Homo sapiens: one gene and its partners. The protein of the gene in region 4 purifies or fractionates together with the protein of the main gene of each other region. This does not show direct contact. Each region holds a gene or a part of one and is shown on either strand. Other genes may lie near its edges.

Region 1 (3,500 bases), on a different chromosome or scaffold from region 4:
ATTGTTATAGGGAAAACCCTAATTACTTCTTACTTCTTTGTCACTCGGAGTAAAATTTCTCCTGTTGAGAAATATTCCTTTGGACAAAATCTCTCTACAAAATAGAGCCAAGAGAGGGCAGCGATTTGCCCAACTTTACAATGTTTTTGGAATAGTATAAGTATGCTGAGTTTTAGCTTGGCATTGTTTTCATAAGTCTCATATATCACTAGTTTAGCAGAGAACCATTAATATATTTATAAGACATTTTTGTGAGGTAGGTTTTTTTAAAAAAAAATTAAAAACACCAAACTCTACCCAATAAAGCCATAAATATTTAATTGGAAAACTTAGCACCAAATGCTAATTTTCTAAGATAGTGCCTTGAAGAAATAAAAATTGCATTAAATTAAAAACTCTACTTTCCACCTAACTTTATATTCAGTTACCATGACCTAAATATGGTTACAATATCCATTTTGCTTGTTTCTTTTAAAAGGATTTTTTAAATTGAGATTATTAGATTGGCGTTTGTGAGCCTCCACACAAATATAGCATGCAATTTTCAAATTAAATAATTTTCTCTATGTTTTGCAAGTTTTAATTCTGAAAAGTCTGTGTGCACATACCATTCTGATAAAATGAGGGATAATATTTTAATAATTTGGGCAGTAAAAATTGTTCATATCTATAAAAGAGAAATAGAGTAGATAGTTATGAGTAATTAATATGAATTATAGCACAAGTATAAGGGATACATACATCCTAATCATACTTTGAGTGGATCAGTGTGCTTGGTTGAACTGAATCATTCACTTAGTACATACATCCTCAGTATGTACTCAGAAAAGAGAATTTAAAGCCAAAAGGATACAGCTTTTCCTAAAACAGTAAGGTGTTACTATATAGACAGGAAATGCAAATATTTACTTTGAAAAATAGCTTGTGAAGCTTGGCATAATGTTATCTCATTAAAAAATATGACCAGGGATATAAAGTTGCTTCATTCTGTATATCAATTTTTTCCTTCGAAATTGTAAAGAACAAAGTTTTGAATATCTAGTTCTTCTAGGATTTGTTTTATCAACTGAAAGTAGCAGCGGCCTTTATATATTAGCCAATGTGAACAAAGGACAAGAAAGAATATTTGTAGTTTGTTTTGTACATTAAAAAAAGTTAAATTGGTGAAAATTTAAAATGAATGAATGTAGTCTCTAAAGAGACTCTCCATCCAAAGTGTTTCAATAGTTAAGTAATTGAAATATAAAGTTTAATGATCCTATAGTGCTAACAGTGCTGCTATTAGGAAAATGGCAGTAAAGGTGACAATATAGGTGTATATTTTCCAAATATTTAATATTTTCATTACTTTCTTCAAAATTGAGCAAAATTTTAAAAATATACTGGTTTTCAGTTCAGGTTATATAATTTCTTTGACTGTTATGCAGTGGGTGGTATAAACCATTTCTAACAACTTTTATTTATGGACTATGTTAGGTCAGGTTCAAACAACTGGTATAAAGTAGACCACTTAACTTCTTTTCACACTTTAGATATTGATATTCTTCAGTGTGCTAAGTGAATTTCCAAGGACTACTAAGCATAATGTATATATAAAGAGGACTCTAAGGAAAGCAGACCCAGTTACCTTGAGTTTAATTAACAGTTTATCGACATACAGCTATAGAAAACAAACTTTATTTAGGTGGCTGACTACAACTGTGTCATGGTACAATGTTATGATTGAAACTGTATTTGTATATTTAAATAGGATGTGTGTGTGTTTGTATGTGAGTTTATCCATGTATGTATGTCTGTATATATATATGTGTGTGTGTGTTTGTGTGTGTGCATATAAAGACAAAATAGAAACATATTTCCATCAGAATTAATGTCCATCAAAATTAATTAAATTTTTTTACGACAATTTAAATTATTAGTAACAAATATTTGTTAAAATCACCAAGATTTTTTAGTTAGGAATATGGCCCTTAAGGTAAATGTATTATCATATCTGAAAAATTATAAGTATCGTCAGGTGCAGTGGCTCATGCCTGTAATCCCAGTAATTTGGGAGGCCAAAGTGGGTGGATTACTTGAGGTCAAGAGTTTTAGACCAGTCTGACCAACATGGTGAAAACCTGTCTCTACTGAAAATACAAAAATTAGCAGGTCATGGTGGCGCACAGCTATAATCTCAGTTACTAGGGAGGTTGAGGCAAGAGAATCGCTTGAACCCAGGAGGCAGAGGTTGCAGTGCAAGATTGCACTACTGCAGTCCTGCCTGGGCAACAGAACAAGACTCATCTCAAAATAAACAAATAAAATATAAATTATAAGTATCTTACATCTATGTAGTCTAAAATTCTTTTTCAAAAAACAAAATTTAACATAGTCAAGTCTGTATTTGTACTACATATTGCCATTTTTTGTGTTGCTTTAGACTTGTCACTTCGTTTCTCTGTGACGCATCTCTCAAACGAGTGACTCAGCTAGCACAGTGTTTCCCAACACAAAGCAATTCTCGGATTAGTATAAAGTTTGTAAAGTCTCTATGGTCATTCTCAGAACTGAAAAAGCAGGATGAGCTGTGGAGAAAAAGACTGAGCTACTTACATTCATTTGTCAATGAGAAAAGAAAGAACTTCTTCAGTTACTAAAAACTGGGGTGCCCAGGTGAGCAGCCATACAATTTCTTTATGCTTGAGGGGAAAATATGTAACTCACGCATACACATGTGTGAGCACATGAGTGCACACTCCCACACACGTATATGTCTTTGAAATTCTGCTAAGTAACTAGATATTTTGAAAGCACTTAAAACTATGTCTGCTTTTTAAAAAATCGATTGTCTGAATTAGGTCCAATTAAAATCTATTTGTGAATAGAGTTTTCATTAGAATTCACAAATGGTAGTGGTGAAGAGTGACAGCTGCCAAAAAAAGACCGACATAGCTAATTTAGGAAAGATTTTAAACTGACAATAAATGGCCCTTTTCTTTTTCTAGAATTAGCTGGTATTAGCATCTCACGGACAAGGTTTTCATAAATGATTGCTCTTGAAGACTCCCAGCTGAGAAGTCTGTGGTCTTAGGAATGTGTAGCTTTTGACACACCCCAATAATATCCACAGGATACCAGAATTTCCTTCTTGAGACTTTTCTGTGTTTATAAAATGTAATCATCCCTAGTTCTTCTCAGGAATTGCATTTAGAGATAGTTTTATGCTTTAGGAGTTGCTCAGTAATATTTTCACTGGGGACTTGGTGACTCATCTGAATTTTCATGTCTCTAGAGTTTCATGATTCACTAAATCAAAGTGAAGCAGAAGCAACCTGTATATCACTAGACACTGAGAGTTTTGAAAAACCAGTATGTCTTTTGATCAGTGAAAAGCATGAAGTGATGTTGAATACATTTTAAAAATTAAAATTGCTTTTTATAGTACCAGAAGAACCATCATTCATTGAGTCAGTTTAATAAAATCTCAATATTCATGAAAGGAAAAAGAAATTACAGGG
Region 2 (3,500 bases), on a different chromosome or scaffold from region 4:
TTTTTTTTTTTTTTTTGAGACAGAGTTTTGCTCTTGTTGCCCAGGCTGGAGTGTAGTGGTGCAGTCTCGGCCTTGCCGCAACCTCCACCTCCCGGGTTCAAGCTATTCTCCTGCCTCAGCCCCCGGAGTAGCTGGGATTACAGGCATGCGCCACCATGCCCAGCTAATTTTTTGTATTTTTAGTAGAGACGGGGTTTCTCCATGTTGGTCAGGCTGGTCTCGAACTCCCGACCTCAGGTGATCCGCCCGCCTCGGCCTCCCAAAGCATTGGGATTATAGGCATGAGCCACCGTGTCTGGCCATTTTACTTTCTTAATAAGCCCTTGCCATGTAGAATCTGGCTTTACCTAAATCTATGCAAACCGTGAGGTGCATCTTGAAAGCAGCAGTTAGGGTCAAACAGGTAGGGTCCAGGATCATCTGAAACAGTCTTGGATAATGAGGTTGGAGGATATGTGTTTTCTTTATATACCTATCCTCGTAGAATCTCCTTTGCTTGAGGTGATGTGAAATGGAGTTAAGGAAAGCAAAGCAAGAGAATGTGGCTGAGTTAGCTGGGGTTCTGCATCCCCTGAGTTTTCCTTTTTTTTTTTTTTTGAGACGGAGTCTCACTCTGTCGCCCAGACTGGAATGCAGTGGCACGATCTCCGCTCACTGCTAGCCCCGCCTCCCGGGTTCACGCCATTCTCCTGCCTCAGCCTCCCGAGCAGCTGGGACTACAGGCGCCCGCCACCAAGCCTGGCTAATTTTTTGTATTTTTAGTAGAGATGGGGTTTCACCATGTTAGCCAGGATGGTCTCTATCTCCTGACTTCGTGATCCACCTGCCTTGGCCTCCCAAAGTGCTGGGATTACAAGCATGAGCCATCGTGCCTGGCTTTTTTTTTTTTAGAGACAAGCTCTCGCTCTGTCACTTAGGCTGGCATGCAGTGGTGCAAACATAACTGACTGAAACCTTGAACTCCTTGGCTTAAGAGATCCTTGAACTCTTGAACCACTGTGCCTGGTTTATCTTTTTCTTTTTTTTTTTGAGATGGAGTCTCACTGTGTCTCCCAGGCTGGAGTGCAGTGGTGCAATCTTGGCTCACTGCAAGCCCCGCCTCCCAGGTTCACACCGTTCTCCTGCCTCAGCCTCCTGAGTAGCTGGGACTACAGGCTCCCGCCACCACGCCTGGTTAATTTTTTGTATTTTTAGTAGAGACAGGGTTTCACCATGTTAGCCAGGATGGTCTTGATCTCCTGACCTCGTGATCCACCCGCCTCAGCATCCCAAAGTGCTGGGATTACAGGCGTGAGCCACCGTGCCTGGCCTTTTTCTTTTTTTGAGACAGAGGCTCACTCTGTAGCCCAGGGTGGAGAGCAGTGGTGCCATCATAGCACACCGCAGCCTCAACCTTGGCTTAAGCAATCCTTCCAACTCAGCCTCTCAGCTAGGACTGCAGGTGTGTGCCACCACATTGGGCTAATTTTTAAATTTTTTGTAGAGATGGGGTCTTGCTATGTTGCCCAGGCTGGTCGCAAACTCGTGGACTCAAGTGATCCTCTTGCTTTGGCTTCCCAAAGTGTTGAGACAACCGGCATGAGCCACCAAGTCCAGCGCTGAAACTTTGCTTTCTAATTGTTACTACTAGTGCCATGTTTGACACTAACTGTTGCTAACTGAAGTAATAGGTAAAAGTTTAGTTTTTAAGTTCTAACTTTATTTATTTGTTTTTTGAGACAGAGTCTCACTCTGCTGCCCAGGCTGGAGTGCAGTGGCGTGATTTCAGCTCACTGCAACCTCTGCCTCCCGGGTTCAAATGATTCTCATGCCTTAGCCTCCCAAGTAGCTGGGATTACAGGCGTGTGGCACCACACCTGGCTAATGTTTGTATTTCTAGTAAAGATGGGGCTTCACCATGTTGGCCAGGCTGGTCTCGAACTTCTGGCCTCATGTGATCTGCCTGCCTTGGCCTCCCAAAGTGCTGGGATTACAGGGAGCCACCATGCCTGGCCTTAAATTGTAACTAAGGTAAGGGTCACTGTCCGTAAGCAGGATTTAAGGGTAACTGGTAGGAGTGAACCTAGCCTGTTTCTGTGACTGTTCTGTTTACATTGCTGCCATTTCACATGGTTTAGATTGACTCCCAGGTTTTAGGTGGTCAGGTTTGGAGAGAATGACATCTCATTTATACAGTGAGGTTGACAGACTATGGGCGTGAAGTGGTTGCTTTCAAAATTTGGTCTCTGATTTATTAACTTACATTTTCTTCTTTCTGAGGCATTGTTTAACCTTGAATTTATTTAGCCTGCTATAAAAAGCTGGTGATTGTACTTACCAAGAAATAATTTTTTCTAAGTTTAAAAAAAATTACTCAGATAATATTACAGGTCTGCAGACAGGTACTTTAGTATAGTTATATCAGAATCTTAGAGGGTGAGGCCTGAGCATAGGAATTCCGTAAAAGCTCATCTGTGTGATTCCTATGAACTGGCAAGATTGAGAATCATTGTAATAAGATAAAAGTGGGGCCAGACCCCATGGCTCATGCTTATAATCCCAGCACTTTGGGAGGCTGAGGTGGGAAGATCACCTGAGCCTGGAGGATCGCCTGAGCCCAGGAGTTTGAGACCAGCCTGGGCAACATAGTGAGACCCCCGTCTGCACAAAAAAATTTAAAAATTAGGTCGGGCCTGATGGCTCACGCCTGTAATCCCAGCACTTTGGGAGGCTGAGGCTGGTGGATCGCTTGAGCTCAGGAGTTTGAGACCCATCTGGGCAACATGGCAAAACCCCGTCTATATCAAAAATATAAATTAAGCCAAGAATGGTGTATATGCCTGGAGTCCCAGCTACTTGGGGGGCTGAGGCAGGAGGATTGCTTGAACCCAGGAGTTGGAGGCTGCAGTAAGCCGAGATCATGCCACTGCACTCCAGCCTGGGTGACAAAAGTAAGATCCTGTCTCAAAATAAATTTAAAAATTAGCTGGGTGTGGTGGTGCACACCTGCAGTCCTAGCTGGGAGGCTGAGTTGGAAAGATGCTAAGCTGAGGTTGAGGCTGCAGTGTGCTATGATGGCACCACTGCTTTCCACCCTGGGGGAATAAAACATGCTGGGCATGGTGGCTCATGCCTGTAATCCCAGTACTTTGGGAGGCCGAGGTGAGTGGATCACTTGAGGTCAGGAGGTCGAGACCAGCCTGGCCAATGTGGCGAAACTCCATCTCTACTAAAAATACAGAATTAGCCAGGCGTGGTGGCTCATGCCTGTAATCCTAGCTACTTGGGAGGCCAAGGCAGGAGAATTGCTGGAACCCGGGAGGTAGAGGTTGCAGTGAGCCGAGATTGCGCCACTGCACTCCAGCCTGGGCAATAGAGTGAGACTGTTAAAAACAAAAAAAAGATAAACCAGGCATGGTGGTTCATGCCTTTAATCCTAACAGTTTGGAAGGCCGAGGCAGGATTGCTTGAGTCCAGGAGTTGGAAACCAATCAGGGTAACAAAGTGAGACCCCAACTCTA
Region 3 (3,500 bases), on a different chromosome or scaffold from region 4:
TGGTGGCGCGCACCTGTAATCCCAGTTACTCAGTAGGCTAAGGCAGGAGAATCACTTGAACCTGGGAGGTGTAGGTTGCAGTGAGCCGAGATCGCGTCACTGCACTCCAGCCAGGGCGACAGAGAGACTGTGTCTCAAAAATAAAATAAAATAAAATAAAGCGCTCACTACCTTCAATACACTTGATATTTGCAAATCAATCCTATTTAGTTCCATTAAAAAAATGCTAGCTCCAATCCACGATATTGTTTTGTTTTGTTTTAATCTACTAACGGGTCATGACTACACACTTGATAATATGATGCTGGTTGACTCCTAACGTCCAGCTTTAATACGGTTTGTTTCTCTGGTTAGTTATAAATGAAGTTAGACTACGCTTTAGCTTTTATTTTAGATTTGGGTTGTGGGGGATACACGTGCAGGTTCGTTACATGGGTATATTGCATCATGCTGAGGTTTGGGCTTCTGTTGAACCTATCACTGAAATAGCGAACATAGTACCCAGTAGGTTGTTTTTCAACCTTTACCCCTTACCTGTCACTTCCCACCTTTTTTTTTGAGATGGAGTCTCTGTCACCCAGGCTGGAGTGCAGTGGCTTGATCTAGGCTCATTGCAACTTCTGCCTCCCAGGTTTAAGCGATTCTCCTGCCTCAGCCTCCCGAGTAGCTTGGACTACAGGTACGAGCCACCATGCCCGGCTAATTTTTTGTATTTTTAGGAGAGATGGGGTTTCACCATGTTGGCCAGGCTGGTCTCAAACTTGTGAGCTCAAGTGGTCTGCCCACCTTGGCCTCCCAAGGTACTGGTATTACAGGCGTGAGCCACCACGCCCGGCCCTTTCCCACTTTTGGAATCCACAGTATCTTATTTTCATCTTTATGTCTATATTTACCTATTGTTTAGACCCCACTTACAAGTGAGAGAAGGTGTGATATTTGATTTTCTGTTTCTGCATTAATTTGCTTAGGATAATGACCTCCAGCTGCATCCATGTTGCTCCAAAGGACATGATTTCATTCATTTTTATGGCTACGTAGTATTCCACGGTGTATATGTACCACATTTTCTTTATCTAATCTACTGTTTTTTGTTTGTTTGTTTGTTTTGTTTTGTTTTTGAGGCAGAGTCTCGCTCTGTTGCTCACGCTGGAGCGCAGTGACGTGATCTTGGCTCACTGCAACTTCCGCCTCCCGGGTCCAAGCAATTCTCCTGCCTCAGCCTCCTGAGTAGCTGGGATTACAGGCACATGCCACCATGCCTGGCTGATTTTTGTATTTTTAGTAGAGATGGAGTTTCACTATGTTGGTCAGGCTGGTCTCAAACTCCTGACCTCATGATCTGCCCACCTCGGCCTCCCAAAGTGCTGGGATTACAGGCATGAGCCACTGCTCCCGGCCTATCTGATCTACTGTTGATAGGTACTTAGTTTGATTCAATGACTTTGCTGTTGTGAATAGTGCTGTGATAAACATACTAGTGCAGTGTCTTTTTGATAGAATGATTTCTTTTCCTTTGGATAGATACCCAGTAGTGGGAATGCTGGGTCTAATGATAGTTCTAAGTTCTTTGAGAAATCCCTCTACTCTTTTCCACAGGGGTTGAACTAATTTACATTCCCACCAGCAGTGTATGATACTCCCTTTTCTCTGCATCCTTGTCATCTGTTATTTTTTAACTCTTTAATAATAGCAATTCTGACTGGTGTGAGATGGTATCAGTGTGGTTTTAATTTGTATTTTATTGATGATTAGTGATTCTGAGCATTTTTTTCATATGTTTGTTGGCCACTTGTATGTCTTCTTTTGAGAAGTATCCGTTTATGTCCATTGCTCACTTTTTAATGGAGTTATTTTTTTTTTCTTGTTCATTTGTTTGAGATTCCTTGTAGATTCTGGATCCTAGTCCTTTGTCAGATGTACAGTTTGCAAATATTTTTTTCCCATTCTTTAGGTTACCTCTTTACTTTGTTGATTCTTTTGCTATGTAGAAGCTTTTTAGTTTAATTAAATCTTGTTTATGAATTTTTGTTTTGTTGCATTTGCCTTTGAGGTTTTAGTCATAAATTCTTTGCCTAGGCCCATGTGCAGAAGAGTTTTTCCTAGGTTTTTTAAAATAGGATCTTTATAGTTTGAGGTTTTATGTTTAAGTCTTTAATACGTCTTGAGTTAATTTTTGTATGTGGTGAAAGGTAGGGGGTCCAGTTTCATTCTTCTGCACATGCTAGCCAGTTTTTTTGTGTGTTTTTTGGGTTTTTTTTTCTTTTTAGCACTGTTTATTGAATAGGTGTCCTTTCCCCATTTTTGCTTTTGTCAGCTTTGTTCAAGATCAACTGGTTATAGGTGTATGGCTTTATTTCTGGGTTCTCTATTCTGTTACATTGATACAGATGTCTGTTTTTGTATTGGTAACATGCTGTTTTGGTTAGGATATCCTTGTAGTATAGTTTGAAGTTGGGTAATGTGATGCCTCCTGCTGTGTTCTTTTTGCTTGGCTATTCAGGCTCTTTTTTGGTTCCATATGAATTTTAGAATTGTTTTTTCTAATTTGTGAAAAATGATGTTGCTAATTTGATGGGAATAGAATTTTTGGATTGTTTTGGGCAGTATGGTCATTTAAATTTTGATTCTTCCAATCCATGAGCATGGAATGTTTTTCCATTTGTTTGTGTCATCTGTTATTTCCTTCATCAGTGTTTTGTAGTTCTCCTTGTAGAAATCTTTCACCTCCCTGGTTAAATTTATTCCTGGGTATTTTATTTTTCATGTGGCTATTATAGATGGGATTGCATTTTTGATTTGGTTCTCAGCTTGAACATTATTGGCATATAGAAATGCCACTGACTGTTGTAAGTTGATTTTGCATCCTGAAACTTTACTGAAGTCTTTTTCTTAGGTCTAGGAGTTTTTTGAAGGACTCCTTAGGGTTGAACAGAGATAATTTGAGTTTCTCTTTTCCTATATGGATGCCTTTTTTTAAATTTTAATTTTCTGCCTGATTCCTATGGGTAGGATGGAAAGTATTATGTTGAATAGGAGTCGTAAGAGTGCACATCCTTGTCTTTTTTCAGTTCATAGAGGGGATGCTTCTAACTTTTGTCCATTCAGTGTGATCTTGATTTTTTGGAGTAGTTTCAGTAAGATTGATACCAGCTCTTCTTTGTTTGTCTGGTATAATTTGGCTGTGAATGCATCTGATCCTGGTCTTTTTTTGGTTTGTAGATTTGTTTTTATAACTGATTCAATTTTGTAAATTGTTATGATCTGTTCAGGATTTCAGTTTCTTCCTTGTTCAATCTTGGGAGGTTGTGTGTTTCCAAGAATTTATCCATTTCCTCTGGTTTTTCTAGTTTGTGCACATAAAGATGTTCATAGTAGTCTCTGAGGCTCTTTTGTATTTTTGTAGTATGAGTTCTGTCACCTTTGTCATTTCTGATTATGCTTCTTAGGATCTTCTCACTTTTTTTTTTTTTAATTTACTTAGAGGTTTATCTATCTTGCTT
Region 4 (3,058 bases):
TATACCAACTAAATTGGAATTGGAAAAGAGAGCAACTGTAGAAAGTGATATAAGCCTAGGTGTCCCTAAAGAAGAGAAAATGAATACCATTTTTTTTTTTTTTTTGAGACAGAGTCTCGCTGTCACCCAGGCTGGAGTGCAGTGGCATGATCTCGGCTCACTGCAAGCTCTGCCTCCCGGGTTCACGCCATTCTCCTGCCTCAGCCTCCCGAGTAGCTGGGATTACAGGCGCCCGCCACCACGCCCGGCTAATTTTTTTGTATTTTTAGCAGAGACGGGTTTTCGCCGTGTTAGCCAGGATGGTCTCAATCTCCGGACCTCGTGATCTGCCCGCCTCGGCCTCCCAAAGTGCTGGGATTACAGGCGTGAGCCACCGCGCCCAGCCAATGAATACCATGCCTCACTTGCCGTTCCAGCCAGGCATCACAAAAACGGCCTGCAGTTTACTTGACTGTGAGCAGCAGTGTGGACCTGGGTAGAACTCACTCCTGCAGCCTCTCTGATACATAGTTCTGTTCTTTTATTATAGTTGGTGACAATAAATATTTGTGGAATAATATTTGTGTGGGAAAGATGCAAAGGCCACATGGTGAAGGAAGAAAACAGGTTTGGAAGTCAACAAATCCTGCTTTTGCCTTGTGCTACTTGAAGCCCTCAACCAAGTGAATCAATACCTCTCAGGCCTCATTCCTTCTTCTTTAAAATAATAACACCTTTTACTCCTTGTAGGTTTGCAATATTTGGAATAATATACAAAAGTGTCTCCTATCTGGTTACAATAAGGAACTCAATTCTTAGGTAAGATTTAGGTGAAGTTTGGCTTTGGTATAAAGAAATTAGAGCTGGTTATTTGGCAAACTGATTTTAGTGTTTTCAAACTCTACTCAAATTTTATCATTTAAGCTAGGATTATCTAGCTTTCAAGATTTTGTGGAGTTTTCTTGTTTTCTTAAGGAGATAAAAGCCGCCTTCACATTTCAAGGACTTTGAGGACCATCTTTCTAACACATTAAATAAACCAACTAATCTTCACTGGTCTCTCTGGAACAAGCTAATTATTATTTAATCTATAAGTGGGTCCTTATCTATTTCTAAACTACCAAGGTTGCCTTTTTTTTTTTTTTCAGTTCACAGTGGTTTAAAATGTACAAACTGTACTAAGAGAACTCGGGCATTCTCTGAGCCCTTTCAGCCCCTATCACTCACTATGTGCCTTTGTGAGCAGCCAGCCATACCTTCTGAGCACCTCAGTCACAGGGCAAAGTCTTCTTATTTTTTAACTTTTTGACCAAATTATATGTGAAAATTCTCAGGTAGATGTATCAGTTTGAAAACTCAGGTTTTCAGTGTCACAAAAGGGTTCTGAAAAGGGAAATCTAAAGAAAATTACCAGAAGACTATAGAGAGTTAAAGAGCTCAAGGAAGGTAGGCTTTGGAAGTAATTTGCAAATGCAGAAATGACTTTTAGCCATAAAATAAAACAAATGTGGGAAAGACTTGCATTGCCCCACGAGTAGCAGTTTTGTCAGGGGTAAACAGAGCAGATGTTTGAAACACTCTAGCCAGTGTTTCCAAACAGTAGGACATTACCCATTAGTGGATTGTGAAACATACTTCGTGAGTTGCCAACATAATTTTCTTTAAAGGCAAGGAATAGAACAGAACATGAATTAGTCACTAGAAGTACAATCAGAGTTGTTTGATGCAATTTTCCATTAATTATACGTGCACACAAGGAAGGTGGGGCCAGGACTACTACTTTTAACTTTGCAGAAAGCTTCATTTTTACTGTGGGTTGTGGTTAAGTTAAAAACATTTGACTATGCCATGTAGGCGACTCCAACACTTCAGGAATACAAAGCTCTGAAAAGAGGTTATGTAGCAAAGCTCATTTTCATTCACATTGATAATAGGTCAGACACATTTTTGAAGAAAAAAATGGACAGAGCGTAAAGGATAACAGAGTACACATTTTCATTTTCTATGATGAAAAGGAATTTTAAAAATTGTCTGTTGTACATAAAAACTTTTTTTTTAAACCAAACAACCTAGAATTAAATGGAGTAAAATGTGAGAAGCCCCCCTTTTTTCCTCCTTCAGCAGACAAAACCGCTGTCAATAGCTTGATATGTGTTATCACAGACTCTTTTCTAGGGTGCACACACGCATATATGCTACGTATAGGTAAACAAGTTTTAACTATACAAATGTAAACAGGAGTGCGTGGTTACTGTGCAACTTCTTCGTCCTGTCAATGTCTTAGAAATATTTTCATGTCCACACTAGAGAGCTATTGTCTTTATCTGCTGCAGAGTGTTATATGTCAGAAATTGGTATGTACTAATTCAACAATTTCTGCATTTCTGTACATTTATGCTGTTTCTAGTTTTTTATTATCTCAAAAAACACTTCACACAGTCTTGTATCTGACTCTTTGGGCACTTGTGTGAATATTTCTTCAGGCTGGATGCCTAAAATTAGTCATTAGATCAAAGGCTGGAGACATTTCACATGTTGATACACACTGTCAAACTGTCCATCCAAAAGCTGTATCAATTTCTACAATGACTGAGAATACTCCTTTCCTCACATTATCTCCAGCACTATCACCAATCTTTAATAATCTGCCATTTCAATGTATTGAAAAATAGTATCTCATTTTAACTTTAATTTTCCTGATTGCTTACGAGGTTGAAAGTTTATGTTTATAGTCTGTATTTCTTATTTATAAAATATTTTTATAGCCTTTGTCCAATTTTTGTTGTTTGTAGGTGCTCTTTATATTATCTTAAATCTTCTGTTCTATTACATGTATTTTCCCACTCCTTTATTTATGAAATCTAATTTTATCAAAGTTTTGTAAAAAGTGAAAGGTTTTACTTTTTAAAAATGTAGTCAAATCTATCTTTTTTTTCATGGCTACTGGGTTTTGTGTCTTGGTTGGGAATGCCTTTCTTACACATTTATTACAATTTTTTTCCAGTATTTTCTTCTAGTTATTTTTAATTTCCATGTTTAATTCATCTTGATTTTTTTCATCCATGATATGAAATAAGAA

The links. The genes of interacting proteins can lie anywhere in the genome.
Region 1: the proteins of CEP78 (region 4) and LRRTM4 purify together in Homo sapiens (co-immunoprecipitation; one large-scale study listed by IntAct). This does not show direct contact.
Region 2: the proteins of CEP78 (region 4) and RNF10 purify together in Homo sapiens (co-immunoprecipitation; one large-scale study listed by IntAct). This does not show direct contact.
Region 3: the proteins of CEP78 (region 4) and CEP350 purify together in Homo sapiens (affinity purification with western blotting; one study listed by BioGRID). This does not show direct contact.

Annotation. Positions count from the first base shown.
Region 1 is NC_000002.12:77,512,377-77,515,876, reverse strand, and holds part of LRRTM4 (leucine-rich repeat transmembrane neuronal protein 4 isoform a precursor), read left to right. Parts: intron 1-3,500. UniProt on the Homo sapiens protein: May play a role in the development and maintenance of the vertebrate nervous system. Exhibits strong synaptogenic activity, restricted to excitatory presynaptic differentiation.
Region 2 is NC_000012.12:120,540,856-120,544,355, forward strand, and holds part of RNF10 (E3 ubiquitin-protein ligase RNF10), read left to right. Parts: intron 1-3,500. UniProt on the Homo sapiens protein: E3 ubiquitin-protein ligase that catalyzes monoubiquitination of 40S ribosomal proteins RPS2/us5 and RPS3/us3 in response to ribosome stalling.
Region 3 is NC_000001.11:179,961,310-179,964,809, forward strand, and holds part of CEP350 (centrosome-associated protein 350), read left to right. Parts: intron 1-3,500. UniProt on the Homo sapiens protein: Plays an essential role in centriole growth by stabilizing a procentriolar seed composed of at least, SASS6 and CPAP. Required for anchoring microtubules to the centrosomes and for the integrity of the microtubule network.
Region 4 is NC_000009.12:78,277,133-78,280,190, reverse strand, and holds the end of CEP78 (centrosomal protein of 78 kDa), read right to left. Parts: 3' UTR 501-3,058; downstream 1-500. UniProt on the Homo sapiens protein: Centriole wall protein that localizes to mature centrioles and regulates centriole and cilia biogenesis. Involved in centrosome duplication: required for efficient PLK4 centrosomal localization and PLK4-induced overduplication of centrioles.